4 linked regions of the Homo sapiens genome follow. The protein of the gene in region 2 purifies or fractionates together with the protein of the main gene of each other region. This does not show direct contact. Each region holds a gene or a part of one and is shown on either strand. Other genes may lie near its edges.

The links.
Region 1: the proteins of LIPH (region 2) and POFUT4 purify together in Homo sapiens (affinity purification with mass spectrometry; 3 studies listed by BioGRID and IntAct, with this or other methods). This does not show direct contact.
Region 3: the proteins of LIPH (region 2) and MSTO1 purify together in Homo sapiens (affinity purification with mass spectrometry; 3 studies listed by BioGRID and IntAct, with this or other methods). This does not show direct contact.
Region 4: the proteins of LIPH (region 2) and CERCAM purify together in Homo sapiens (affinity purification with mass spectrometry; 3 studies listed by BioGRID and IntAct, with this or other methods). This does not show direct contact.

Annotation. Positions count from the first base shown.
Region 1 is NC_000010.11:73,767,709-73,775,285, reverse strand, and holds the start of POFUT4 (GDP-fucose protein O-fucosyltransferase 4 isoform 1 precursor), read right to left. Parts: upstream 3,011-7,577; 5' UTR 2,953-3,010; coding exon 2,245-2,952; coding exon of another isoform or gene 2,184-2,244; intron 2,152-2,183; coding exon of another isoform or gene 2,120-2,151; exon of another isoform or gene 2,097-2,119; coding exon 1,471-2,096; exon of another isoform or gene 1,466-1,470; intron 1-1,465. Other genes in the region: protein transport protein Sec24C, read right to left, coding at 4,191-4,331, 4,488-4,577, 4,815-5,006, 5,271-5,450, 5,553-5,671, 5,801-5,939, 6,134-6,279, 6,380-6,476 and 1 more. UniProt on the Homo sapiens protein: Protein O-fucosyltransferase that specifically catalyzes O-fucosylation of serine or threonine residues in EMI domains of target proteins, such as MMRN1, MMRN2 and EMID1. Attaches fucose through an O-glycosidic linkage.
Region 2 is NC_000003.12:185,514,577-185,521,601, forward strand, and holds part of LIPH (lipase member H isoform 1 precursor), read right to left. Parts: intron 4,734-7,025; coding exon 4,566-4,733; intron 2,587-4,565; coding exon 2,491-2,586; intron 1-2,490.
Region 3 is NC_000001.11:155,605,227-155,613,217, forward strand, and holds the start of MSTO1 (protein misato homolog 1), read left to right. Parts: upstream 1-4,991; 5' UTR 4,992-5,022; coding exon 5,023-5,106; exon of another isoform or gene 5,107-5,198; coding exon 5,199-5,334; exon of another isoform or gene 5,335-5,812; coding exon 5,813-5,882; intron 5,883-5,989; coding exon 5,990-6,065; exon of another isoform or gene 6,066-6,129; intron 6,130-6,184; exon of another isoform or gene 6,185-6,200; coding exon of another isoform or gene 6,201-6,322; coding exon 6,323-6,377; intron 6,378-6,462; coding exon 6,463-6,601; coding exon of another isoform or gene 6,602-6,626; intron 6,627-6,694; exon of another isoform or gene 6,695-6,739; coding exon of another isoform or gene 6,740-6,756; coding exon 6,757-6,874; intron 6,875-6,955; coding exon 6,956-7,090; intron 7,091-7,191; coding exon 7,192-7,344; exon of another isoform or gene 7,345-7,408; intron 7,409-7,579; exon of another isoform or gene 7,580-7,617; coding exon 7,618-7,749; intron 7,750-7,822; coding exon 7,823-7,991. UniProt on the Homo sapiens protein: Involved in the regulation of mitochondrial distribution and morphology. Required for mitochondrial fusion and mitochondrial network formation.
Region 4 is NC_000009.12:128,423,832-128,430,856, forward strand, and holds part of CERCAM (inactive glycosyltransferase 25 family member 3 isoform a precursor), read left to right. Parts: intron 1-306; coding exon 307-441; intron 442-578; coding exon 579-783; intron 784-4,470; coding exon 4,471-4,590; intron 4,591-4,925; coding exon 4,926-5,002; intron 5,003-5,098; coding exon 5,099-5,205; intron 5,206-7,025. UniProt on the Homo sapiens protein: Probable cell adhesion protein involved in leukocyte transmigration across the blood-brain barrier. Does not express any beta-galactosyltransferase activity in vitro.

The sequences.
Region 1 (7,577 bases), on a different chromosome or scaffold from region 2:
TGTGGAGGGGGTTCAGAGGCAGGCAAAGCAGAGGCCAGACTGGAAGTGGCAGTCTCCATAAGGAAAGCAAGGGGGCAGGGGTCTTTAGATGATTATCTTTTAAGTTTCACCTTTATGCCAATAATCAAAATGAAGGTGCATCAAAATGAAGTAGCATCCAGTATCTAGAAAAGACATAACCTGAATATTTATTTTCTTAATGTTTCATATTTTTTCATACTTTTCCTCTAGTAAATCATATTATGTTCAGATACAAACAATTTGTAATTAGATACAAATTACTTGGTGAAGGATTCCAACCATCAGGACAAAACTGCCAGCAGCATCTGTTAATAAATGGCCTTCTGCTGCCATCCACTGTCCAAGTCGGTTTCTATAGGCCATTCTAGCAGCCTTACTTCAGCTTAATAATCTTATCACCTCTCCCCCAATAGGTGTGGCTTGCTACAAGTGGTTTCAACATTTTCCCACCCCACACCACACGCTGGCCTTGTTTCCCAGTACCACCACCTTTTGCCACCTACTACAGTAGCCTATTCGCTTCCCTTCTGATGCGCATTGTGCATTGTTTTGTGTGTGTGTGTGTGTGTGACAGGGTCTTACTCCAACCCAGGCTGGAATGCAGTGGCACGATCCTAGCTCACTACAGCATTGAACTCCTAGGTTCAAGCAATCCACCTGCCACAGCCTCCCAAGTAGCCAGGACTACAGGTATGTGCCACCACCCCAGGCTTTTAGTTTTTAAATTGTACAGAGAGGCTCTTATTATATTGTCCAGGCTGGTCAATATATTATATTATATATTATATTGTCTCTGGCCTCAAGTGTTCCTCCCCCCTTGACCTCCCAAAGTGCTGGGATTACAGGTGTGAGCCACCGTGCCCGGCCATGCCTAGTTTTTCTAGTTACACAGGCAGTGTGTCCCCACCTGCACCAACTACATGGGGCTCATCCTCAGCACAGCCGCTTAAAAAAAAAAATTATGGCTGGTTAACAGGTGTAACCCCTGACTACTGCAGAAAAGCCTCTCTAAAAGTGCTCTTCTCTACTGCCCAACCCCATTTCCACTCTATAAAAGGTGCTCAAATAGCTGAGTTGATTTTTAGTGCAGTGCAAACTCCTGAACCTGGTATTAATGATATTTATAGCCTTGTCCCTATTTATTTGCCCCATTTTCTCTCTCCCCTGTCTGCACAGGCCCTGTACTCTGGTTCAATCTTTTTGAACCACTACTGGAAACATTGTTCACATAAGCTGATTTTCATACGTTGCCTTGAATTATATTTTACATCTATTCAGCTTTTTCAGCTTGTCTTATCCCCCCAACTAGACTGTTGACACCTTAAATACAGAATGAGCCCATGTGATAATTTCCTCCTGCACCTGCTCAGCACCTAGTGCTACTTAATTGCCCACAGTAAGCAAGTAAGTAAATGATTTGATAGCTGCAGGGGACCCCAGCACTCTTACCTGTCATTCTCAGGAATCTCTTCCACATTGCCAAAGCCAGGTGTGGGCACTGGGCAGTCCATGTGTGAGGGCTGGGCAATGTGGGGCTCAAAGACGGGGCTGTCCCCGGGAGAGGCCGCGTGGGCTTTCTCGGCATCCAGCCGAGCCAGTTCGTAGTCACAGACGAAACACTCGAAGCCGTTGAGGTAGTTAGGCAGCAAAGGATCATTCACTCCCCACTCCCGATGCTTCAGACTATCCAGAAGAAATTGGTTGGTGATGCCCCCAGGTTGCTTGTATGCCAGGTATTTCATATACTCCTCATCATTCTTGTCCAGAAAGTCAATAAACTCTGCCAGCTTCTGAGGAGACTCAAAATCATCAATCAGGATGACGGAGTGATTGTTCGGCATCCAGTCCCTCACAGAGGGAGAACCGCGGTACACGGGCACAGCGCCCAGGTGCATGGGACGCCACAGTTTTTCTGTCATGTAGTCGTTACAGATGGCATTTTCCAGGGCCAAGTGGAACTTATAGCGGGACAAGAAAGCCAAGAGCTCTGGATCCTCGGTGGTGGCCGTGGCTGTGTCCTGTAGCCGCGCGGTAGGCAGCTCCCGATTCTGCAGGCATTTCCCGTAGGAGTCTACCTAGACCGGGTACAGTAAGGCTGTCATGAGGGTGCGGCCCTGGAGGCCTGGACACCTGGAGTCCTGGACACCTGGAGTCCTGGACACCTGGAGTCCTGGCCTCAACCCGCCCTCTCCTTTTCCTTCCCTCCGGCCCGCCCTCACTCACCGGGATGTGGCGCATGAGCTCGCGCACGTAGCGGTCCCGGTCCGCTGGCACGTCGCAGTGTGACTGCAGATAGAGCAGCGGCGCGTAGCCGCGGCGGCGCCACTCCGCGCGTTCCATGGGCGGAGGCACCGGGCGGCGCAGATAGGCGGTCCCGGGCAGCCACTGCAGCGACAGCGGGTAATCCGAGTGGCGACTGAAGGTGGAGGTAAGATTGAAGAGGCGGATGCCCGGGCCGTGGCTCAGCAAGAAGTTGTTGAGGGGCGACTCCTCGTGGAGGAGCGCCCAGCTCTGGTGCGCCAGGCGCGGCAGCGGGGCGGCCGACGCGCGGAAGTCTGTGCCGTAGAAGAGCAGCGCGCGCGTCCGCGAGTCCCTCAGCGCTCGGCGGTTCCGGGACGCCACGCACGCGCCGCGCGCACACTCGATGCGCTCCGAGTCTCCCGGGAAGTGGGGGAATAGCCCTGGGCTCCACCACAGCAGTACCGGCAAGTCCCCCGCCTCCTCCCTCCCTGGCCGCGGCGTCCCAGAGCTGCGCGTCACCCCCACTGCGCCCAGCGCCGAGGGCGGCCGGAAAACCGCGCCATCCCACGGTTCCGCCCACTCCGCCTCCCCGCCGGCCTCCCTCTCCGCTACGGACCCATGGCCGCTGGCTGCACAGACACTGAGCACCCCTAGAAGGACCAACACCACCCTAATGGGGCCGGCCGCCATGTCCACTCCGGCAGCCGGCGCCCCCTCGGCCAGCACCGACCCCGCCCAGCGGATAGTCGTGACCGGACGAGGCCCTACGCCACGGGGGCACGTGGCGCATGCGCAGCTCGCTCAGCCGACGGCCAGGACTAAAAGCAAAGTGAGCTTTCGGGAGTAAAGATGAGGCTAATGGTTACATCTTAATTTATTTTATTTCTTTACAAATTAAAGATGCATTGAAAAATAAACCAATGAAGAGAAATGAGAGGTCCAGAGCAGGGGCATCCCAGGTGGGGAGCAGGCAAGCCTGGCCACCATCAAGCCTAGCCCTTGTCCTGCCCCCAAGCCAGTTGGGGTTGGAAGATAACTGTCAGCCACTCAGTCAATACCAAAGCCCAAGCGGTGTCCCAGCAGGAGAGAACGGCGCTCCAGCTGCCTCTGCCTCTCTCCCCAACAACCCCGGGCCTGGAGAAGCAGTGTTTCTCGTGGGAGCTCAGAGTGGGATGTGAACTGGCTCTGTGAGGTATTGCAAGTTGATGACCAGGCTCCCTAGGCTCCCTACAGAACCATCCAGTGTTGGGGCCTCTCCAGCTGGAAAGGAAGCTGGTACCTCTACCAGATCTTAATATATTTTGCAACTCAGTTCTCCGGTCACCTCTGACAGTGTGCCTCTCTATCCACGGAGTGATCATCAATCATTGCAGGAGAGAGCGAGCGAGCAGTGAAAGCAGAGAAACTTGACTGCTAACCTCCAGGCCCAAGAAGGACTGACCACTTTTCTCTCCACCACCTATGGGCTATACCCCAGCTCTTGTGCACCTATATGTTTTATCCCTAATATAGGAAGTTGTGGATGACACTGAGCCCCCTGTAGTAACCTTAGGATCCCCACTCTTTCCTGCCTGCCCCTCTCCTCTTGGGAGACTGGTCCAAAGGGACACATAATATTGCCAGGGTCTGGGTGCCTCCAAACCCCCAATACCGAATCATATACAGTGAACTGAGAAGCTACATTCATTATGACAGGATTAGCAGGAAAAAGAGGGTAGAATGAGGGAACAGGGGCACCTTCCATCAGCAGGACATGACAGAGTGGCAGGATACTTGAGCCCAGAAAGAAGGTGTCTCCTTATATCTCCCCCTCCCCCCAGAGAGACTGAGGTCAGCTTACATAAGATATGTTACTGTCCCAATTTCTCTGACATCCTGGGGTGCTTTCTGGAAGCTAGCCTGGGCCCTATGCCATTTACCCACTTGCTTTAGCTCAGTAGCTGCCGAATCTCCTTGTGCATATGACAGAGAAAGTCCACATAAGATGCTCCCCCACTCAGACTCTTGTCTTCCACCAGGAAGTGCTTGAACAGCATCTCCATCTTGTCTTCCTGTTTCACCACGGTAAGCTACGGCCAGAATTCAGGGTTCATAAGGCAAGGCCAAAGGAAATTAAACATGCCCAGAAATCTCATTAGGCAGTCACTTACTCATTCCCCACCCAACCCCCACTTCTAGGTGAGGACTTGACAAGGTAAGAAATCCAGGGTTCAGATCAGTGTTACCTTCATGTACCGGGATCTCTGTGCCCGTAAGCTATCAATGAGGCCTCGAACCTTCTTGGACAGTGGATTATCCAGAACTGGCAGAACACTCTAGAACACAAAATTCATTTATCCTTATGGTAAGGCACTCTGAGTTCAGTCAAGGTGGGGCAGCATACATGTATGCATCATCTGAAACAGGCAAACCTGGGAAGAATGACAGCAACTGCCCTTGTCCCCAAGTGTTCCCTGATATTTGAGGGTACTAGCACACTAACTATATTGGCTCCCAATTGTTTCACAAAGTATACTTCCACACCCATATTCTCCTTGACTCCCTGCCCTCACCAAACCACTGGTGATCTGACTGAAGGAGGAGACGCTGAAAAGGCTCTGGACAACACCCTGTTGGACGCTTGCTCCCACCCAGAGGAAGAGGTTGAGCCCATTCTCCAGTAAATATATATCCCCATTGCTTAGACGCTCTTCAGAGGCTCGAACTGCTGGTGGTTCGGTAGTACTCTCAACGGGAGACTTTGTCTAGACAAAAGGAAGGGAGCAAAAGGTTACCAAGGACCATAAGACAAGTCTGCCCCCCCGCACCACACACAAAATTTTGAAAGCTAAGTCCTCAGACACCACCCCTTCTGGGGTCTCAGTAACTCTCTCAGTGTGAAAATTACATCAGCTAAAATACATAAAAACAAATTCCACTAGTGTCTGACTGATACTAGCCTATCCTTTCCTCCTCCTAAGAGGCCCTTTGCTCCGTGCAAGATCTCATACTCCAACCCTCAATCGCACCAAAGGTAAGAGCCGAGGGTAGAAGAAGACATTGGTCTCAGTCACATCCATGGAGGTAACTAGCTGTCGGACATAGGCACGGTCATCAGTAGTGACTTCAGCTCCAGGCTGCAGGACATCACTCTTCAACACACAGTTCAGGTAAACTGGGAGTAGCTTCATGCACTCAGGAAGGATCAACTGAGGGGATTATCAAAATAAAGTCAATGATCATGAGAAATCCCTCCCAAATGCAAACATTTGTCCCAACAACCCCACCTCCCACTAATATACTTGCCCCACCTGTCCTGCAGAGGAGGGGCTAGCACAGTTCTTTCTGTAACAGGCCAGGATCTGGGCACACTGGGTGATGAGCGTGTCACGAACAGCCTTCACAGGGCTATTCAGGACTCCCCGATATGCTGGATGGGAAAGCAAAGATAGTCACTGGTCAGCTGCCCATCATGTGTGCATTCCCACCATCACAACTACCCACTCACCATCCTGGACCTCTCAGCCCCAATCCCACCCTGCCCTGCTTCTACCCTCACCAAACTTGGCCATGTAGTTGATGAGCGTGTCAGTCTCACAGTTTCGATATAGATCAGCCAGCTGGGTGCAGCAGTTCAGGGCCAGATTATGGATGCGGAGCCGACGCTGCCCTGCACAGCTGGTGTAAAGCAGGGCACACTAGGGGAAAGGAGAAAGGGGGAACTCACACCCCTCCCTCACAAAGGCCCTTTGCTACACTATTAAACTGGAAGAGAGAAATGAGCCACTCCCGTGCCCTGTCTCTTCTTTTAGTGCTCTCTACCCATTCCTCACCCTCTTCTATACCAAGCGAATGAAACACTTCCTGCCCAGCCCCGCCTCCCGCCTGCCACCTGCAGGAGAGCTCCGCTCTCTTCATTGAGCCGATCGTCATGCTTGAACTCCACAGTCACTGTTTTGTCCCCATCTAGCCCAGCCAGCTCCACATCTGTCGTGTTGCTCATGTAGAAAGCTCCAAAGAAATCTACAGCACGGATACCTGAGGCCACATGGACAGGGTCAGGGCAAAAAGTATGACAAGTGCCACATGCCTCCCTTCCATATTTAGCCCCCCAACCTGCTCTTCAATCAGGACTGACCAGTGCTTGTCCGGACCCGCATCACAGCATCAAAGCCAACAACCTTCTGGACATCACGACGCAGGTCACTCAGGAACCGCTCCTGGTCGTTCTCCACCTGCAGGCCCCCAGGTCCAGAGTCATGTCACTGACTAGACATAGCTCATCGTGCAGACAATCTCCCTGTACCCCTTCCACTCTACAAGGCCACCTAATTATCATCATCATAACAGTGAGGATGATAATGATGATGACAATAATAGCTTTTAAACACTTAGACTGCATGCCAGGTACCACACAGAGTGCTTTACATATAATTATTTAATTCTGTTGACAAATCCTACTTAAGTATTTTAACACCATTTTGCAGATGAAGGAACAAAAGAGGAAGTACTTAAGAAATTTATCCTAGGTCATGTAGCTAGTAAGTGGTGGGGCCAGAATATCAATGCAGGACTGATTCCAAGGCCCATGTTCCTAACTGCCACATTCTCGGGCTCACTTCTTCAGACTATGCAGTCTTCTCTTCCAACACTATTTCTTCTTTTTTGGAGACGGAGTCTTACTCTGTCGCTCTGGCTGGAGTGCAGTGGCGCAATCTCGGCTCACCACAACCTCCACCTCCCGGGTTCAAGGGATTCTTAGCTTCCTGAGTAGCTGGGATTACAGGCGCCCGCCACCACACCCGACTAATTTTTGTATTTTTCGTAGAGATGGGGTTTTGCCATGTTGGCCAGGCTGGTCTTGAACTCCTGACCTCAGGTGATCTGCCTGCCTCAGCCTCCCAAAGTGCTAGGATTACAGGTGTGAGGCACCGTGCCTGGCCCCAACACTATTTCTATTAATGAGTCAGCCACTGCATATATAAGCAGATATTCCCAGCCCTGCTGCCACCTGCTGCCCCAAATCCCACACCATACCTGAAAGGAAGCATATTTGTAGACAGAGCCACCAGTGAGCTGGGGCACAACAGAGAGTGTGGCCACATCCACATACTGGTTAGGGAAGAGAAAGAGATCTACACAGCAGCCTTGGGCCACACACTCTTTGGCCAGGGTCTGATAGGCACCTGTCTGAGGCTGGAACAGAGTCTAGGGGGAAAGAAAATGGGGAGAAGAAAATGTTCAAATATCTCAGCTCCGCCCTATTTGAAAACTGTATATCTAGCATGGGATATTCAAATTCATGGAAGACTTCAGATCTACTTCCAAGGATTTTC
Region 2 (7,025 bases):
AAGGGCTGGTTCCTAAAAACTGAACCTCCCTAATCACTGAGTCTCTTCTTCTCTTTCTCTCTGGTTTCTCTGCAAAGATCCAGGGCAGAAGTTTCTAATATTCCCTTCTCTTCTCTTTGGTAAAGATGGCATGAGTGATAGCAGAGTTCATTGGTTTCCAGTCACCATGGTCAGGCATCATCGTTGAACCAGTGTTTCCAGGTATTGTGAAGTCTTAGGGCTTATGGCTGAGTGTGGTTCACATCAATTCCTGCCCATTTTAGACTCAACCAACTAAGGGGCCATTCGGAGACCCTCCAGGGCTGAGACGGTTTTCCACAGTTTGGGCCAAGTCCACCAGCCTACTCAGCCTTCCTCATCCTTCTCCCAATCATGCTCCACCACCTGCACTCCCTGCACTGTGAAGGCTCCTGGGCCTTCACCCACCTGGGCACGCTTACTTTGCCAGCTCTGTGAATCCACCTTTTAGGTTTCAACTTAATGTCATTCCTCCAGAAGGCTTTTCCTGACCCCCAGACTAAGTCAGGTCTCCTTTCTTGAAGTTCCTGCCATACTCTGGACTCTCCCCATTATTATTCAGCACACTTTCCTGTATTTACAAAATGCAAGAAAGGGTGATAATAAAAATAAAGTGGCATTCCCTAACCAGCAGACTCAGAGAAAAAAAAAGTGGTGAATATGTGGGTACATCTATACAAATGTTACCTGAATAATGTCTTATGGGTTTTTTTAAAAAAAAAAAAGATAAAATTAAAACACGCTACAACAGGAACTAATCAGGGAGATGACAGTCCCACGAAGGAATAAGGTCAGTCCTGGATTTGCCATTTTATGGCCCAACTTGCTCAGGGGCTTGCCCCATACAGACCAGGTAGGTGCCAAATCCTGGGCTGCCACACATGGCTCCAAAGAAAGAGGGAAACCCAGTGATCTGCAGGCTTTTTTTTTTTTTAAAAGAATCTCTCTGTGTTGCCCAGGCTGGAGTGCAGTGGCGTAATCTCGGTTCACGGCAACCTCTGTCTCCTGGGTTCAAGCAATTCTCCAGCCTCAGCCTTCTAGGTAGCTGGGATTACAGGCAAGCACCACCACGCCCAGCTAATTTTTATATTTTGTTTTTGGGGTTTTTGTATTTTTAGTAGAGATGGGGTTTCACCATGTTGGCCAGGCTGGTCTCAAACTCCTGGCCTCAAGTGATCCGCCCGCCTTGGCCTCCCAAAATGCTGGGAATGCAGGCGTGAGCCACCATGCTTAGCCTCCAGGCTCTTTTAAAAGAGTTGCTCACACCTGGCATGGAAGTTCACACCTGTAATCCCAGCACTAAGGCAGGAGGATTGCTTGAGCCCAAGAGTTCAAGACCAGCCTATGCAACATAGTGAGATTCTGTCTCTAAAAGAAACAAAAAAAACAGTTAGCTGGGCATGGTGGCGCATGCCCGAAGTCCCAGCTACTTGGGAGGCTGAGGCAGGAGGATTGCTTGAGTCCAGGAGGTTGAGGCTGCAGTGCCCCATTATTGTGCCACTGCACTCCAGCCTGGGTGACAGAACAAGACCCTGTCTCAAAAAAAAATTAACATAGCCTGGGCATGGTGGCTGATGCCTGTAATCCCAGCGCTTTGAGAGGCCAAGGCAGGCAGATCACCTGAGGTCAGGAGTTTGAGACCAGCCTGGCCAACATGGCAAAACCCCGTCTCTACTAAAAATACAAAAATTAGCCAGGCATGGTGATGCACACCTGTAGTCTCAGGTACTCGGAATCCTGAGGCAGGAGGATCGCGTGAACCCAGGAGGCAGAGATTGCAGTGAGCTGAGATTGCGCCACTGAACTTCAACTTGGGTGACAGAGTGAGACCCTGTCTCAAAAAAAATAAATAAAATGAAATAAAATAGTTGTTCCCAAGGAAAGTGAAAATGGGTACAAGACTGTAGGAAAAACACATCTGCCCAAGGAAATTCTAGTTGCTTCCCAAGGCGTCTAATCATTGGCTGCCCCCTTTAATTCCCATCTGGAATACTCAACCTCTCGAGGCCTTTGGGTCATCATGTTTGCTTTAGAGCTGGAACTGACCTGTAGATATGGCTGACACCTGATTTTTCCTAGTCTTAATTTTATGTCTTTTGGGGAATCAAGCAATTTTCTGGAAGATCTTAGTGATTAGAATGGTCATCCAGTGAAACTAACAACTCTGATTTGTTGAGATTTTATTAAATTAATATTTTTAAATGGCATCAGATTAAACCTAATATCCCAGAATACAGGCATTATTACCCCCATTTGACCAGTCAGGACATTGAGACTCAGAGAAGTCAAATGACTTCACCAAGGTCCCACAGCTATTATGTGGTAGACTCAGGAGTCAACCGAGGCCCTTCCAGCTCCAAAGTTGATGCTTCATCATGGCTCTTATTTGCCAAGAAGTAGCCAGGAAGCTGAGACTCAGCCATCCCCAAAATGAGAGTTAGGCAAAAGCCAACAACCACATTCACCACTCACTGCAGAATGGGCTCTCCTCAGCTGTGTCAAAGAATGCCTTCGTCATTGGAGGATCTTTCCCCCTTAGATGGTCTTTCCAATTATCAGCATAATAGCCTATGAAACAAGTTTAAAAAATTGTAAGATTAATATGTATTATACAAACATAAAAGCAACTGAGGTAGCAAGAACATTGAGTTTGACTGTATCCACCACTTCTGAGAGAAACTCCATCCCACCTCCATCCCCCATGGTGAGGGCCTGCAGGGTGACCCATCTTGCTGGCCAACCCTGTCCCTAAGAGCTGAAGGGCAACAGGACCCTCCAGTTGTTTTCCCCCTTTACTGGTTCTCAGTAGCAGGGTGGAGAGGTGTGGGGTGTGGCACACACTGGTGTGGACTAAAAATAACACTGACATTTTTCAGTAATACATTCATTTTCTAGATTAAAACAGATTCAAGTTCATACCTAAAATAGCATCACTCTTGAAAACCAATATGCTTTCTTGAAGAACTACAATGGGGCCCCTAAATTGCATAGACCTGGGCTTGCCACATGACTGACTGTGTCACTAAGCAGGTGAGTGTCCTCCTTTGTTTTTGCTGTCCAGAGGGCCCTCTTTCTCTCCTCTGTCCCTAGCCCTAGAGAATGGCCTTCACATTCTGCCTTAATTGATCCAGGGTGGGACCCAGGCATCAGTATTGTGTTAAAACTCCTTAGGTGATTCTAAAGCACAATCAAGGTTGAGAACCCCTTGTCTATACCATGCCCTGTTGTTAACTTGGATTTTTCCTTTTGGAAAAAAAATAGAAAATCCTCATGACCATCCAGTTTCAAAGTCCTAACCACCTAGAATATCTGTACTAATCCCTAGCGAATATCCAAGCAGCCTCCACAATATCTATTACCTCACTCCACCTGCTGTACGTGCACACAAGAGCCAGAATGTGGAGTGAGGGCATTTACATAGACATGAGTCTGTGAAAAAGTTCACTTGTCAGGAGAGTCTCTGGGCTCATTGTGGACCCTCTCCCAGCAGAGAGGTTGTAAGCACAGAAAGGGTATTCCTGTCCCCACAGGAGCAGGCTACGTAGAGTGACTGTACCCTGGGTAAGCTTGGAAACTCTTCTGTAACCTTCTTTTCCATGCTAGAATAGAGGGTCCAGGGAGGCTGTACTGCCTTCTGGATGGAATACTCTACAGTTGCTTTTCTTTTCTTTTTTCTTTCTTTTGTTTGTTTGTTTGCTTTTTGAGACGGAGTTTCACTCTTGTTGCCCAGGCTGGAGTGCAATGGCGCGGTCTCAGCTCACTGTATCCTCCGTCTCCCAGGTTCAAGTGATTCTCCTGCCTCAGCCTCCCAAGTAGCTGGGATTTCAGGCGCCCGCCACCATGCCCAGCTAATTTTTTTGTATTTTTAGTAGAGATGAGATATCACCATGTTGGCCAGGCTGGTCTCAAACTCCTGACCTTGTGATTCGCCCACCTCAGCCTCCCAAAGTGCTGGGATTACAGGCGTGAGCTACCATGCCCAGTCTACATTGCTTTCTAACACTGTTTATTAGTAGGAGACTAGAGTAGTTCAAAGAACAAATTGGCTAGAAAAAGCTGACTAGAAAAAAAAAGTCTATTTTTAAAATTTTTTTCTTTTTAAGAAATTTTTTTTTAAATTTTAACCTTTTATTTATTTATTTTTGGAGACAGGGTCTTGCTCTGTGACCCAGGCTGGAGTGCAGTGGCATGATCTCAGTTGACTGCAGCCTCAACCTCCTGGGCTCAAGTGATCCTCCCACCTAAGCCTCCTCTCGAGTAGCTGGGACTACAGGCACGCACCACCACACCCGGCTACTTTTTGTATTTTTGTAGAGACAGGGATTCACCATTTTGCCCAGGCTGGTCTCAAACTCTTGACCTCAAGTGATCCAGCTGCTTCAACCTCCCAAAGTGCTGGGATTACAGGCATGAGCCACTGTGCCCAGCAGAAAAACAAGTTTTTAATACAATTATGGGGCCAGTTTTTACATGATAAAGTGGTTCTGGGATTCATACCAAAAATTAGTTCTTTGTGAATCAGAGAGGAAACTGCTGGTTAGACTTACCCAGAAGGGGACAGGACTCTTTTTGTGACGTGCCGCAGCTGACACACTTGCCATTCCTATAATCCTGGTAGGAGTCACAGGGATACGCAGTGATGGTGCAGCTCTCTCTCAGGGAAGACAGGTACAGGTATACAGACCTCTGGTGGTCACATTTAAAATACTGAAATCCTTGGTTGTAAAAGAAGTGATGAAAGAGTAGAGCGGTTGAAGCATTTAGTAATACTATATCACATATTCTATACACACACAATTTCTCATCTGGCCCTGCGCTCTTTCAGTGTATTTTATTTCATTTAATCTTTATAAAATCCCATAGATAAGAATTCATGCTGGCAAGTGGGAGGAGAAAAGATGAAATCAAATTAAGGTTGTGGCAAGAATTAGAGCAAATATGCTTTGGTGAAAGACCCAGGGCCAGGTGCAGTGGCTCACGCCTGTAATCCCAGCACTTTAGGAGGCCGAAGCAGGTGGATTGCCTGAGGTCAGGAGTTCGAAACCAGCCTGGCCAACATGGGGAAACCCCGTCTCTACTAAAAATACAAAAATTCGCTGGGCGTGGTGGTGGGCACCTGTAGTCCCAACTACTCAGGAGGCTAAGGCAGGGAGAATCGCTTGAACCTGGGAGGCGGAGGTTGCAGTGAGCCGAGATTGTGCCATTGCACTCCAGCCTGGGCAACAGAGTGACACTCCATCTCAAAAAAAAAAAAAAAAAAAAAAAAAAAAAAAAGACCTTGATTGCTCACGTAGCAATCGAGGTATCTTTCACTGTCATCCAATGCTTGATCCATAGATTGCCTGCATCAAAATCGTGCTTATTAAAATACAGAGTTCAGGTCCACCCTCAAATATTTCTAATTCAGAGGAGGCGCAGGCATCAGTATTTTAACAAACACTGTCCCCTGTCTTCCATGCGGTCCTGAAGCATGTAAGTTTGAAAGCCCCTGGTCTAACATTGCAGGGCTACTTCAGACTACAAAGTTGCTGTGTCTGCTCATCAAGCTGACATGGTGAGGGTGCTTGGGTCCAAGGCCAACTTTCCCCAGGTCATGGAGAATCAGAAGGAATTACCAAAATCGTTATCATAAAAGTAAATTGCTGGCTGGGCATGGTGGCTCACGCCTATAATCCCAGCACTTTGGGAGGCTGAGATGGGTGGATCATGAGGTCAGGAGTTCAAGACCAGCCTGACCAACATGGTGAAACCCCGTCTCTACTAAAAATACAAAAATTAGCCGGGCATGGTGGCGCGCCTGTAATCCCAGCTACTTGGGAGGCTGAGGCAGGAGAATCGCTTGAACCTGGAAGGCGGAGGTTGCAGTGAGCCGAGATCGAGCCACTGCACTCCAGCCTGGGCGATAGAGCAAGACTCCATCCCAAAAAAAAAGAAAAAAAAAAGCAAATTGCAAATCATTAACTAATTCCTCTTCATTCTGCCTTTTCATATAATATATTTACTTAGAGAAAGGTTGAAAAATGCAAACAACTAGCTTCAGTCATGGAGCTCTCTCACTCCCCTGCCACATTTATTATGGGAATTTTCAAACCAGGCACAAAAATCGAGAGAAGGATACAAAGAACCCTCATGCCCATATCATCCCCGCTCCAGTAATTGAGTAATTATCAAAATTCTCCCATTCTTATTTCACTTACTCTCCAGCATTGTGGCATTTAAAAACCAATCTTTCACTGTTAAATATCACTATTAGATCTAATCAAGTACTAGCTTCTATCTTTTTTTTTTTTTTTGAGATGGAGTCTCGCTCTGTTGCCCAGGCTGGAGTGCAGTGGCATGATCCCGGCTCACTGCAACCTCTGCCTCCTGGGTTCAAGCAATTCTCCTGCCTCAGCCTCCCGAGTAGGTGAGATTATAGGCTCGTACCACCACTTCCGGCTAATTTTGTATTTTAGTAGATACAGGGTTTCACCATGTTACCCAACCTGGCCTTGAACTCCTGACCTCAGGTGATCTGCCCACCTCAGCCTCCTAAAGTGCTGGGATTTCAGGCATGAGCCACCATACCCGACTGAGTACTAGCTTCTATCTTGAATAGAATAACTTTGACTCTGCTTTTCTCAATGTATGGACTTTACCTATTTAGTTCACCATGGTAGTTTAACTATTATGCTGTTCTGAACTGTTATACTATACTGAACTGTTCTCCTTTAGTTCCAGATCATAACACAGTGCCAGACACATGGCAAATTAATAGGTATTTGTTGGATGAATGAATAAATGCAACCTCTAGTGGGTTCCGCTGTTTGCTGAAACCCCTCTGCTTTATTTCTGCTCGAGGGTTTAACTGGAAGCCTGGTTCTTATGAGCTTCCTCGGTCTGGTACTGTTCAGTGCCAGTAATCCCAACAACTGCCAAAAACTCAAGAGCAAGAGTCATTCAGATTCCTGCCACATTTTTCATTCATGTCAAAGGCAACGGGGCCTGGCACTGCACAGAAACCAGGC
Region 3 (7,991 bases), on a different chromosome or scaffold from region 2:
CTCCAGCCTAAGCAATAGAGCAAGACTCCATCACAAAACAAAACAAAACAAAACAAAACAAAACAAAAACAATATTGAAAATAAAAAAGCACATCACCACAGATCCTGCAGACATGAAACAGTTTAAATGAGTTCACCATAAACAACTTGGTAGTAATAGCTCTGAATTTGTAGATGAAATGGACAAATTTCCAAAAAAATATGGCTTACCAATATTGACACAAAAAAATAAACTTTAAATACTCCTATACTAATACAGAACTTGAATAATTCATAGGTGAAAACTTTTCTGCAAACACTGCAGGCAGGGCATGGTTCACTCCTGTCATCCCAGAACTTTCAGAGTGGGAGGATGGCTTGAGTCCTGGAGTTCGTGACCAGCTTGAGCAACATAGACCTCCTCTCTACAAAAAAGGTTTAAAATCATGTAGTCACAGCTACTCCGGAGGCTGAAGTGTGAGGATCGATTGAATTAAGGGGTTCAAACTGCAGTGAGCTCTGATCCAGCCATTGCACTCCCTCCAGCCTGGCTGACAATCAGATAATGTCTTAAAAACAAAAACAAAGAAATAACCAACTCTAGGTCTATATAACTTGGCCTGTAAACTCCAGCAAACATTTAAAGAAATGATGCCAATCTCATATAAATTCTTGTGGAAAATAGAAAAGGGAAAATACTTCCCAACTTGTTTTTGAGGCCACTGTTATGCTAATATCAAATGCTGACAAGAACATTAAAGAAAAGGAAAATTAGCCAATCCCATTCACACATATGGATGCAAAACAAAATATCAGTAAGTAGATCCAACTTTTTTTTTCTTTTTTTTGACAGAGTCTTGCTCTATCACCCAGGTTGCACTGCAGTAGCATAATCTCAGTTCAGTGCAACCTCCACCTCCTGGGTTTAAGCAATTCTCCTGCCTCAGCCTCCCGAGTAGCTGGGACTACAGGCACTGGCCACCATGCCCAGCCTTTTTTTTTTTTTTTTTTTTTTTTTTTTTTTTGTATTTTTAGTAAAGACGGGGTCTCGCCATGTTGGCCAGGCTGGTCTCGAACTCCTGGCCTTAAGTGATCCGCCTGCCTCAGCCTCCCAAAATGCTGGGGATTACAGGTGAGAACCACTGTGCCTGGCCAAGATACAACTTTTTTTTTTCTATTTTTTCTTCTTCTTCTTTCTTTTTCTTTTCAGACGGAGTCTCACTCTGTCTCCCAGGCTGGAGCGCAATGACATGATCTTGGCTCACTGCAACCTCCGCCTCCCAGGTTCAAGAGATTCTTCTGCCCCAGCCTCCCGAGGAGCTGGGACCACAGGCGCGTGCCACCACTGCCAGCTAATTTTTGTATTTTTAATAGAGATGGGGTTTCACCATGTTGGCCAGGTTGTTCTCAAATCCTGACCTCAGGTGATCGCCTGCCTCAGCCTCCCAAAGTGCTGGGATTACAGGTGTGAGCCATCGTACCCAGCCTTTTTTTTTGTAGCAACAAGATCTCACTATGTTACCCAGGCTTGTTTTGACCTCCTGGGCTCAAGTGATCCACCTGCCTCAGCCTTCCAAAGTGCTGGGATTACAGGCATGAGCCACTGCAGCCGGCCCAGATCCAATATTTTATATTTATTTATTTTTTGAGACAGAGTCTCCATCTGTCGCACAGGCTGGAGTGCAGTGGCCCCATCTTGGCTCACTGCAACCTTTGCCTGTCGGGTTCAAGCAATTATCCTGCCTCAGACTCCTGAGTAGTTGAGATTACAGGCACGCGCCACCTCGTCCTGCTAATTTTGTGTTTTTAGTAGAGATGGGGTTTCACCATGTTTGCCAGGCTGGTCTCGAACTTCTGACCTCGTGATCCGCCCGCCTTGGCCTCCCAAAGTGCTGGGATTACAGGTGTGAGCCACCACACCCAGCCAGATCCAATATTTTAAAAGGATAATCAACATAAATGAATTTAGGTTTTTTGTTTGTTTGTTTGAGTTGGAGTCTTTCTCTGTCACCAGGCTGGAGTGCTATGGCGCGATCTTGGCTCACTGCAACCTCCGACTCCCTGGTTCAAGAGATTCTCCTGCCTCAGCCTCTCAAGTAGCTGGGATTACAGGCACGTGCCACCACGCCCAGATAATTTTTGTATTTTTAGTAGAGACAGGGTTTTCACTATGTTGGCCAGGATGGTCTCGAACTCCTGACCTTGTGATCCGCCTGCCTCGGCCTCCCAAAGTGCTAGTATTACAGGTCTGAGCCACCGCGCCTAGCCGAGTTTAGGTTTATTTGAGGAATGCAAGATAGTATTACATGATAATCTAACGATGTAATTTATTCATTAGCACAACAAAGGAAGGATAAAATAATGTAATTATCTTGGTTTGGAGAAAGCTGTAAAAAACATTCAAATCTATTCATGATCAAAACTCTTAGCAAATCAGGACAGAGAACTTCCTTAAACTGTCAGAGTATCTATAGAAACTTTTCAGCCCACATCATACTTAGAAAAGTGAAATAGTAGCCGGGCATATTGGCTCACGCCTGTAATCCCAATATTTTGGGAGGCCGAAGTGGGCAGATCGCTTGAGCTCAGGAGACCAGCCTGGGCAAGATGGTGAAACCCCTTCTGTACAAAAAATACAAAAATTAGCCGGGTGCAGTGGCCTATGCCTGTAATTGCAGCTACTTGGGAGGCTGAGGTGGGAGGATCGCTTCAGCCCAAGAGGTTGAAGCTTCAGTGAGCCGGGAGATTGCACCACTGCACTCCAGCCAGGGCAAAGAGAGTGAGACAGTCTCAAAATAAATAAACAAAACTAAATATAATACATGTGAAAATACAAAGAGCTCAGAAGAGATAAGAGCATCTAACCTTTATTTCTTGAAAAAATTTCAAACCTACAAGAATGCTCAGAGAGTACTGCAAAAGAACACCTATAATCTTCACCTAGATTCAATTAACATTTTGTCACTTTTTAAAATTTTGAGACAGGGTCTCCCTCTGTCTCTGGCTGCAGTGCAGTGCTCCAATCATGGTTCACCGCAGCCTCTAATTCCTGCGCTGAAGCGATCCTCTCACCCTAGCCTCTGGTTAGGACTACAGATGTGGGCTGCCTAGCTAATTTTTTGAAAAATTCTTTTATAGAGAGGATAGGGGGAGGGGGAGTCTCACTACATTGTCCAGTCTACCCTCACATTCTCGAATTTCTGGACTCAAGCGATCTTCCTGCCTCAGCCTCACCAAAACGTGGGAATACAGGCGTGAGCCTCTGCGCCCAACCAATATTTGCCTTATCTCTTTTTTTTTTTTTTTTTTTTTGAGATGGAGTCTGGCTCTGTTGCCCAAGGTGGAGTGCAGTGGCGCGATCTCGGCTCACCGCAAGCTCCGCCTCCCGGGTTCACGCCATTGTCCTGCCTCCGCCTCCCAAGTAGCTGGGACTACAGGTCGCGCCCGTCACCACGCCCGGCTAATTGTTAGTATTTTTAGTAGAGACGGGGTTTCACCGTGTTAGCCAGGATGGTCTCGATCTCCTGACCTCGTGATCCACCCGCCTCGGCCTCCCAAAGTGCTGGGATTACAGGCTTGAACCGCGGCGCCCGGCCTTTTTTATTTTTATTTTTATTTTTTTATTTTTTATTTTTTAGAGAGGAGTTTTGCTCTTGTTTCCCAGGCTGGAGTGCAGTGGCGTGATATCGGCTCACTGCAACTTCCACCTCCCAGGTTCAAATGATTCCCTGACTCAGCCTCCTGAGCAGCTGGGAGTACAAGGGCCCGCCACCACGCCCGGCTACATGTTTTGTATTTTTAGTAGAGACCGGGGTTTCATCATGTTAGCCAGGCTGGTCTCAACCTCCTGACCTCAGTTGATCCTCCTGCCTCGGCCTCCCAAAGTGTTGGGATTACAGGCGTAAACTACCGCACCCGGCCCTTGCCTTGTTTCTAAATACACACAAGAATGTTAATCATAGCACCTAATAGCCCAAAAATTGGAAACAATCCCAAAAGCTATTATCAGCAGTATATATATATATATATATATATATATTTTTTTTTTTTTTTTTTTTGAGACAGAGTCTCGCTCTGTCGCCCAGGATGGAGTGCATTGGCGTGATCTCGGCTCACTGCAAGCTCCGCCTCCCGGGTTCACGCCATTCGCCTGCCTCAGCCTCCCGAGTAGCTGGGACTACAGGCGCCCGCCACCACGCCCAGCTAATTTTTTTTTGTATTTTTAGTAGAGATGGGGTTTCACCGTGTTAGCCAGGATGGTCTCGATCTCTTGACCTCGTGATCTGCCCGCCTCAGCCTCCCAAAGTGCTGGGATTACAGGCGTGAACCACCGCGCCCAGCCTATTCTTTCTTTAGAATAGATCAGTGGTGGCGTATTCATACAATGGACTATTCCGCAGTGATGAAAATGAATTATAGATATTTGCAAAAATATGAATTACATAAACCATATTGAGCAAAAGACGCCAACAGATACATACTCTCTTTACATAAGGTGTTAGATACACAGAGATAGATAAATACGTGTAAATGATAGAGATATGATAGCTAAGCCAGTCCACAGGTTATTAGTCGTGGTCCACGTGACTTCTGAAGAGATGAAGGGGCATGGGAGGCTTTAGGGGAGCTTCCGCTTTTCTGGCAAGGTTTTCTTTTTGCCCGGGGAGCTATCAGCCAGCGGAGAGATCTGTGAGAAGGGATAAGACCTCAAGACAAGTAGGAAGCAGAGCCTTCCACGGCCCGCGCCCTGGCGGCCCCAAGTCAGCGGCGGAGACGGCGCCCACCCCGCTCCAACGTGGAGCAGGAGCAACGGCGTGGCCCGTGGAGCCCCGCCCCTCACAGGCAACCACAGAGAAGCCGGACTGGGCCACGTCTAGGAAGAGGTAGGAAGGGATCGGCGCATCGTTTCTCCAATGGGAAAGGATGTGTTTGCGGGCCAATAAGTAGCCGAGAATAACACCCGCCCACGCGCCTGCCAAGCCAATCGGCTAGGAGCAGCGAGCGGCGCGGCTGAGGCGCGGCGGCCCCGTGGAGCAGCGCAGTATGGCGGGCGGGGCCCGGGAGGTGCTCACACTGCAGTTGGGACATTTTGCCGGTTTCGTGGGCGCGCACTGGTGGAACCAGCAGGTGAGGTCAGCCGGCAGCTGCCCCCGAGGAGCCCTTCGGGATCTACAGTCCCGACGTTCAGCCGGCCTGCCTCGTCCTCTCTGCTTCCCCAGGATGCTGCGCTGGGCCGAGCGACCGATTCCAAGGAGCCCCCGGGAGAGCTGTGCCCCGACGTCCTGTATCGTACGGGCCGGACGCTGCACGGCCAGGAGACCTACACGCCGCGACTCATCCTCATGGATCTGAAGGGTGAGGTGGTGGCAGAGTTAGCCGATGCCCCTTATTTCCCTTCCGCGTGCCTAGTCCTTGCGCTGCCGTTATCTTCAAGACCCTCCCACCTTACCGAGCTCCAGGACCGGAGATGAGGAGCTGAGCACAACATGCCAACACTCGAGGGGCCCACGACAGTTGCTCAAGAGCCATTTCGGGAATAGGCTGCTAGGCCCTGGAGACAGTGAGGACTTGAACTGCAGCACTCCTGTCAGACCCCTGGATGTGGTTCCCCCCGCGTCCCACAGCTAATGACTAAGCTGGGAACCGAAAGATGGAATCTAGATTCTCCTAAGCCAAGGTTTTTCCCCCAACTAGTGTATATCCCAGAAAGCTTGGAAGAGCCAAGTGCTGGAGAGATGGTGACAGCAGGTTGTCAGGTGATCAGAGGAAGGTTAGCTAGAGGGGAAGGGTGCCCAGGCTTTGACCTAACATTGTCTCTGTTATTTCTGTACAGGTAGTTTGAGCTCCCTAAAAGAGGAAGGTGGACTCTACAGGGACAAACAGTTGGATGCTGCAATAGCATGGTGTGTAACTGATGTATGGATAAGGGTGGGGATCGTGTATGTACGCAGAACGCTGGATAACTCTGATCAGAGTGCAGTTTCTTTGATCAATCTCCAAACTCTTTCAGGCAGGGGAAGCTCACCACACACAAAGAGGAACTCTATCCCAAGAACCCTTATCTCCAAGACTTTCTGAGTGCAGAGGTGAGGGCCTCTGTCCTGAACTTTTTAACCCGGTGCCACAACCCGAGGGTCTCCATAGGGGCAGGTAAACGGGGATTTTAATCATTTTAAGTGTCTTAGAATGATATTTTGGGAAAAAGCACTCCTTTTCCTAAGGACTGCGACTCGGTGAACAGAAAGGAGGCTATGCGGTGTGGCCAGCCAACTCAAGGAGGACGAAGCAACCTTTGCCTCTAAACTGCCTGGAACTAAATGTCGATTTTTCTGACCCCTCCCAGGGAGTGCTGAGTAGTGATGGTGTCTGGAGGGTCAAATCCATTCCCAATGGCAAAGGTGAGACTTCTCCAGATACTGATGGATGGGGGCTTGGGTAGAGCAGAAACATGGAGAAAGGTACATTTCCTCTGCTTGTCTTCAGGTTCCTCACCACTCCCCACCGCTACAACTCCAAAACCACTTATCCCTACAGAGGCCAGCATCAGGGTCTGGTCAGACTTCCTCAGAGTCCATCTCCATCCCCGGAGCATCTGTATGATTCAGAAGTACAACCACGATGGGTATGGGGACCCCAGAGGCTTTGAGGCAAGAAACATGGGTCCCCACCAATGCAGGATGAGGCTCTTGAGGCCATCTTCCCTGCCCTTCCCCAGGACAAGAGGCTGAGGAGTTGAGGGAAGAGATGTAAGTCTTGGATCATGTTTACTTGTGGCAGGGAAGCAGGTCGGCTGGAGGCTTTTGGCCAAGGGGAAAGTGTCCTAAAGGAACCCAAGTACCAGGAAGAGCTGGAGGACAGGCTGCATTTCTACGTGGAGGAATGTGACTACTTGCAGGTAGTGGCGTGGCAATGTGCACTCCAGGGTGGAAGCTCTTCTCATCCTGCTAACTATCTTTTGTCACTCACCCCCGTCCAGGGCTTCCAGATCCTGTGTGACCTGCACGATGGCTTCTCTGGGGTAGGCGCGAAGGCGGCAGAGCTGCTACAAGATGAATATTCAGGGCGGGGAATAATAACCTGGGGCCTGCTACCTGGTCCCTACCATCGTGGGGTGAGTGGAACTTAGAGAAGTAAACAGTCACACAGTGGGGAGGGAGAAATCAGAATCCCAGTGGGAGAGCTGCTTAATACAAACTACTCTTTCTTCACCAGGAGGCCCAGAGAAACATCTATCGTCTATTAAACACAGCTTTTGGTCTCGTGCACCTGACTGCTCACAGCTCTCTTGTCTGCCCCTTGTCCTTGGGTGGGAGCCTGGGCCTGCGACCCGAGCCACCTGTCAGCTTCCCTTACCTGCATTATGATGTAAGTCTCGGTGCTCTTGTTCTGACTGCGGCAGGCTACAGGGCCTCCTCATGCTCCCAGTCAGCCGCTGTCTGTTACTGGCTCTGTTCTTGAGGCCCGAGCTTGAACTCAGCTGTGATGTGGCCTCTCAGATCACACTGTCCTATGCTTGTCCAGCCTGGGGTCAAACATACCCCTGATTCGTCCCCTGGGTCTCTCTGGTGTTAATATTCTGCCTCCACACATTCTTTTCCAGGCCTGAGGCCAAGTGCCCATCTTGGTGTCTTCTTACAGGCCACTCTGCCCTTCCACTGCAGTGCCATCCTGGCTACAGCCCTGGACACAGTCACTGTTCCTTATCGCCTGTGTTCCTCTCCAGTTTCCATGGTTCATCTGGCTGACATGCTGAGCTTCTGTGGGAAAAAGGTATGAAGCTTTGTAAGGGGTTGGGTCAGTGCTGAGAAAATGTCCTATAACGTGTTCTCTTCCATCTCTTTAGGTGGTGACAGCAGGAGCAATCATCCCTTTCCCCTTGGCTCCAGGCCAGTCCCTTCCTGATTCCCTGATGCAGTTTGGAGGAGCCACCCCATGGACCCCACTGTCTGCATGTGGGGAGCCTTCTGGAACACGTTGCTTTGCCCAGTCAGTGGTGCTGAGGGGTATAGACA
Region 4 (7,025 bases), on a different chromosome or scaffold from region 2:
TAAATTGAGCCTGGATCTCTGAACTAGAGCTCAGAGTAGGTGTTTGGATCCATTTTCTAAGCCAGATCCCAGATAAAGGTCTTAGATCAGTAACTCAGGTATAATCTCTGGACCCAGTCCCTGAGTCAGTGCCCCAGACTAGAGCCTTGGTCCAGAAACAGATGTACTGAGTTTGTGAGACCTCTGTAAGAGCATTCCCACTGGATCCTAGGAGCCACGCTGGGTCTCTGGCAGGACCACTCAGTGAACTCCTTGGGGGGCTGCAGCCCAGGCAGGGCTGGAGCCTGTGACGTCCCCTCCTCAAAGTTTGCAGACACAGACAACATTCTGACCAACAATCAGACTCTGCGGCTTCTCATGGGGCAGGGGCTTCCAGTGGTGGCCCCAATGCTGGACTCCCAGACCTACTACTCCAACTTCTGGTGTGGGATCACCCCCCAGGTGAGGCCGGGATGGGGGCCTTGGGTGGACTGAGGTCCTGGAAGGAGGGACGTGGAGAGCAGAGAGCCTGAGGCCTTGGGGTCTGTGGGCAGGGGCAGGGGAGCCCTCTCACAGCCCAAAGCATCCCTTTTCCCCAGGGCTACTACCGCCGCACAGCCGAGTACTTCCCCACCAAGAACCGCCAGCGCCGGGGCTGCTTCCGTGTCCCCATGGTCCACTCCACCTTCCTTGCATCCCTGCGGGCTGAAGGGGCAGACCAGCTTGCTTTCTACCCGCCACATCCCAACTACACTTGGCCTTTCGACGACATCATCGTCTTCGCCTATGCCTGCCAGGCTGCTGGTGAGGACCAGCCCTCCTTTAGCATTCCTTGGAGGCCTCTGCACATTTGCACATGCTATTCCAGCTGCTTACCATGCCCTTCCCTACTCTGCATTTCATCCTGTTAACCCATGAGTTACAACTTTGGGTCATGAGTTTTCTTTTCTCTCTCTTTTTTTTTTTTTTTGGTGTGATCTCGGCTCACTGCAAACTCTGCCTCCCGGGTTCAAATGATTTCCTGCCTCAGCTTCCCGAGTAGCTGGGATTACAGGCACCCGCCACCACACCCAGCTAATTTTTGTATTTTTAGTAGAGACGGGGTTTTGCCATGTTGGTCAGGCTGGTCTCAAAACTCCTGAGCTCAGGTGATCCACCCGCCTCGGCCTCCCAAAGTACTGGCATTACAGGTGTGAGCCACCCGCCCAGCCAGTGGTTACTTTTAAGATGAAAGGTTTTTTGTTGTTGTTGTTGTTGTTGTTTTTGGGACAGAGTCTCACTCTGTCGCCCAGGCTGGAGTGCAGTGGCCGATCTTGGCTCACTGCAAGCTCCGCCTCCCGGGTTCAAGCCATTCTCCTGCCTCAGCCTCCCGAGTAGCTGGGACTACAGGCGCCCACCACCACGCCCGGCTAATTTTTGTATTTGTAGTAGAGATGGGGTTTCACCGTGTTAACCAGGATGGTCTCGATCTCCTGACCTCGTGATCTGCCCGCCTCGGCCTCCCAAAGTGCTGGGATTACAGGCGTGAGCCACCGCGCCCAGCCAAGATGAAAGTTACTAGAAAGAGTTTGGGTATGGCCAGGCAAGGTGACTCAGACCCTAATCTCAAAGTCTTGGGAAGCTGAGGCTGGAGGGGAAATCACTTGAGCTCAGGAGTTCGAGACCAGCCTGGACAACATAGCAAGACCTCATCTCTTTTCTGCCCTTTTTTTTTTTTTGAGATGGAGTTTTGCTCTTGTTGCCCAGGCTGGAGTGCAATGGCGTGATCTTGGCTCACTGCAACCTCTGCCTTCCGGGTTCAAGCAGTTCTCCTGCCTCAGCCTCCCGAGTAGCTGGGATTACAGGCATGCACTGCCACGCCTGGGTAATTTTGTGTTTTTAGTAGAGACGGGGTTTCTCCGTGTTGGTCAGCCTCGTCTCGAACTCCTGACCTCAGGTGATCTGCCCGCCTCAGCCTCCCAAAGTGCTGAGATTACAGGCATGGGCCACTGAGCCCAGCCCAGCCTTTTTTTTTTTTTTTTTTTTTTGAGACGGAGTCTTGCTCTGTGGCTCCCAGGCTAGAGTGCAGTGGCACAATCTCAGCTCACTACAGTGTTGACCTCCCCCACCTCAGCCTCCCACGTAGCTGGGACCACAGGTGCACACCACCATGCCCAGCTAATTTTTGTATTTTTTGTAGAGATGGGGTTTTGCCGTGTTGCCCAGGCTGGTCTTGAACTCCTGGGCTCAAGTGATCTGCCCCCGCAGCCTCCCAAAGTGCTACAATTACAGGCGTGAGCCACCGCCCCCGGCTGCGAGATCCCATCTCTACAAAAAAATTTAAAAATTAACTTGGCGTGTTGGCCCACGCCTGTAGTCCCAGCTTCCTGGGAGGCTGAGGCAGGAGGATCGCTTGAGCCCAGGAGGTAGAGACTGCAGTAAACTGTGATCATGCCACTGTACTCCACCTTGGGCAACACAAGATGAGACCCTGTCTGAAAAAAAACAGAGAGTAAGAAAGTGTTTGGGTTTGGATGGAATAAATCCAGTCCTGGCCAGGTGCGGTGGCTCACGCCTGTAATCTAAGCACTTTGGGAGGCCGAGGCAGGTGGATCACGAGGTCAAGAGATTGAGACCATCTTAAGACGGTGAAACCCCGTCTCTACTAAAAATACGAAAAATTAGCCAGGCATGGTGGCGGGTGCCTATAGTCCCAGCTACTCGGGAGGCTGAGGCAGGAGAATGGTGTGAACGCAGGAGGCAGAGCTTGCAGTGAGCCGAGATCGCGCCACTGCACTCCAGCCTGGGCGACAGAGCGAGACTCTGTCTTAAAAAAAAAAAAAAATCCAGTCCTGAGGATGAGAGGGAGGGGTGGAGACACTGATGTTGGAGTGAAGCTCTTGAGAAGGCTGCAGAGAATATGTAATTCCGACCCTGAAGACTATCTGGTGCATGGAGAAGAACTTTGCAGGTGCTCAGGGTAAATTAGAGGTGACGATTTAATCAAGTAATCAGTGGCAGCCGGTAAGGAGGATGTTGTAATTCTTTGTTTTGTGCTGGAGAAGTCTGCAGTGTGCAGACATGCAAGAAGAAATCTTACCAAGTGCAAAAAGTGAGTGAAGGTGAAACAATTGGAGGGGAAAACACAAGAGGAAACAAAAGCATTCTGTTATTTTTAATTTGCTAGCCCTACTTCAAGCGACAGCCGTTGTTAATTGGTCAATGGTTTGAAGGAATTCAGTCTCTAACAGCCAGATACTACATCCCGGCTCTGGGCCAGGCTCTGTGCTCAATGCTGGGAATAGGGTTAGCTTTTATTTGTTTTTTGTTTGTTTTTTTTTAAGACAGAGCTTTGTTCTGTCGCCTAGGCTGGAGTGCAGTGGCGCGATTTTGGCTCACTGCAACCTCTGCCTCCCGGGTTCAAGTGATTCTCCTGCCTCAGCCTCCTAAGTAGATGGGATTACGGGCGGCCACCACCACAGCCGGTTAATTTTTGTATTTTTAGTAGAGATGGGGTTTCACCATGTTGGCCAGGCTGGTCTTGAACTCCTGACCTCAAATGATCTGCCTGCCTGGGCTTCCCAAAGTGCTGGGATTACAGGCGTGAGCTACTGTGCCCCGCCTAGGTTAGCTTTTTAATTGGCACTGTGTGCCTGCCCCTGAGGATAATTATAATAAAGGTAACAAATATTGGCCGGGTGCAGTGGCTCACGCCTGTAATCCCAGCACTTTGGATGGCCTAGGGTGGGTGGATCACTTCAGGCCAGGAGTTCGAGACCATCCTGGCCAACATGGCGAAACTCCGTCTCTACTAAAAATACAAAAATTAGCTGGATGTGGTGGTGCACACCTGTATTCCCAGCTACTCAGGAGGCTGAGGCAGGAGAATTGCTCAAACCTGGGAGACAGAGGTTGTAATGAGCCAAGATCGCACCATTGCACTCCAGCCTCGGTGACAGAGCAGGACTCCATCTCAAAAAAAAAAAAAAGGTAACAAATATTGAAGCCGGGGGAAGGCCACTCTGGCTGCCAGGTGAAAGACATCGTGGAGAGGAGCCCCAGAGGGTGTGAGGTGAAGTGGAGGGGTGTGGGGAAAAGGCGATGGCCCTTGGATCCAGGTGGGGTGGTGGGGATCAGGAGAGGTGGGGGGATTTAGGAGACAGAGCAGTGGGGCTCACTGGCACCCTGTGGCTGTGATGGGTAGGAGTTTGTCTGCTCCTGCCTCACCTTGATGCCCTGAGGGCAGGGACTCAGTCTTGCTCACTGCCGTAACCCTGGCTCCCAGCGGGTGCCCTGGACAGGTATATTGAATGAATGAACCATTTCAGTAGAAAGACCCCTTAGATATTGTGTGAGCCAAGCCCTTTCTCCCTCTGGTCCCACAGGTGGGGAAACTGAGTCCCAGAGAAGACTGACATGTTGGGTCACTGGCAGTGCTGGGCCTAGGACCTTTCAGCTGGGTTCTGAGAGCCCCACCCTCCACTGCAGCTCTCACTCAGCCTGTCTCTGCAGGGGTCTCCGTCCACGTGTGCAATGAGCACCGTTATGGGTACATGAATGTGCCGGTGAAATCCCACCAGGGGCTGGAAGACGAGAGGGTCAACTTCATCCACCTGATCTTAGAAGCACTAGGTGAGGGCTGGGGAACTGTTCCACCCACCTGCTGCCGGGGCTCCCTGCCTCCCCACGGTGCCCCTTTCCCTAGGCCCTGGACGGAGCGGGCATTGGCCTTGGGGTTCCAGCTTTGTCCCTAACTCGTTCCATGACTCTGAGAAAGTCCCTTTCCCTGTTGGGCCTTAGTCTAGCATCCCTACAATGGGGGCAGGTGGATCCTGTGATCTCTGAGGTCCCGTCCTGTGGGGTGTTCTGCCAAAGGGGGCAGGAATGAGGCTGGGGGCTAGGACTTCAGGGTGACTGCTAACAGGAGTCAGTAGGGACTCGTGCTTGGGGTGTGCTTCCCTTTGCAGTGGACGGCCCCCGCATGCAGGCCTCAGCTCATGTGACTCGGCCCTCTAAGAGGCCCAGCAAGATAGGGTTTGACGAGGTAAGTCCCCCAGCCTGTGGGCTCGCTGTTAGGAGGTGGATGGGCCCTCCTCTTCCGCTCCCTTGCACTTACCGCCCACCCCCCTGCCTCCTCCAGGTCTTTGTCATCAGCCTGGCTCGCAGGCCTGACCGTCGGGAACGCATGCTCGCCTCGCTCTGGGAGATGGAGATCTCTGGGAGGGTGGTGGACGCTGTGGATGGCTGGTGAGCCTGCCTGGTGGGGGGGGCCCTGTGCGCTTGGGGAAGCAGTGTGGTCCATCTCCTAGCCCGCTAGGACTGGGAAAAGCAGACAGGTTGAATGAGTTTCCTGTCCCATGTAGTATCCAAATAGGGTCTGAGTAATATCCTCTCAGGGAGTTCCGGAGCAGACACACGTGGGAGAAGATGCCCTCCTGCTGCTCACCAGAGGAGGAGAGCACAGTGGCTGAGGCTCCAGGGCCTGGGTTCCAGCTCTACCAGTTACTGAATGTGTGACCTCCAGCCAGCTACCCCCATCTCTCAGCCCGTTTGTATAAACAGCAGATAACTGTGCCCTTCTCTTAGGGTTTTGTGAGTTTAGTGAAGTTAGCCAGGGCCGGGCACATAGTTTCCAAAGGCTTAGGTGTCTCCCTTATTATTACTCTCCATCCTGGACTTGAGCTACTGATGCGTGGGGATTAGGAAAGGCCAGCCATGTTCCCCCGAGGAACCCAGAGGCTAGGCTTCTCCAGCCACCAGGGGTCCTATGGCCCCATATGTCGGCTGCCATTTGCTTCAAGTACTCAGCTCTTTTTATTTTTTTTTTAGAGACAGCGTCTCCGTCTGTTGCCCTCCGTCTGTTGCCCAGGCTGGAGTGCGGTGCCACAAACATGGCTCACTGCTGCCTTAAACTCCTGGGCTCAAGTAATCCTCCCACCTCAGCCTTCTGAGTAACTGGGACTATAGGTGTGCACTATCACATCCAGCTAATTAAAAAGAATTTTTTTTTTTTTTTGAGGCAGAGTCTCGCTCTGTCGCCCAGGCCTGGAGTGCAGTGGCGCAATCTTGGCTCACTGCAACATCCGCCTCCCAGGTTTTAAGTGATTCTCCTCCCTCACCTCCCAAGTAGCTGTGATTACAGGCTTGCATCACCACACCCGGATTAAAAAAAATGTTTTGTTTTGTTTTTTTTTCATAGAGATAGGGTCTCACTCTGTTGCCTAGGCTGGTCTTGAACTCCTGGCCTCAAGTGACCGTCCTGCCTCAGCCTCCTGAATAACGGACTACAGGCATGCACCACCATGTCCACCTAATGAAAAAAAATTTTTGACTGGGCACGGTGGCTCATGCCTGTAATCCCAGCACTCTGGGAGGTTATGGATGGATCACCTGAGGTCAGGAGTTCGAGACCAGCCTGGCCAACCAACATGGTGAAACCCCCTCTCTACTAAAAGTACAAAAATTAGCCAGGTGTGGTAGTGGGTGCCTGTAATCTCAGCTACTTGGGAGGCTGAGTCAGGAGAACTGCTGGAACCCAGGAGGCAGAGGTTGCAGTGAGCCGAGATTGTGCCATTGCACTCCAGCCTGGGCCGACAACAGTGAGACTCTGTCTCAAAAAAAATTTTTTTTTTGAGAGATGGGGTTTTTCTCTGTTGCCAAGGCTGGTCTTGAACTCCTGGCCTCAAGCAATCCTCCCACCTTGGCCTCCCAAAGCACTGGGATTACAGGTGTGAGACACCACATCCCCCGAGGTCTCTTGACCATAGGCTATCCATCCTTTGCTTGGGCCTCTGCCCAAGAAGTATCTATCATGTTCCCACATTCTTCCTAGAGTGCCTCCCCCTCAGGCAGCCCCCTACCATCCCACCCTTTCCTCAAGGGTCACCCCTGTCTTATCATATTAGGACATGTCCTAATAGTTATCCTCTCAGAACTCCCGAGGTGGCTGGGCGTGGTGGCTCATGCCTGTAATCCCAGCACTTTGGGAGGCTGAGGTGGGTGGATCACCTGAGGTCAGGAGTTCGAGACCAGCCTGGCCAACATGGTGAAACCCCATCTCTACTAAA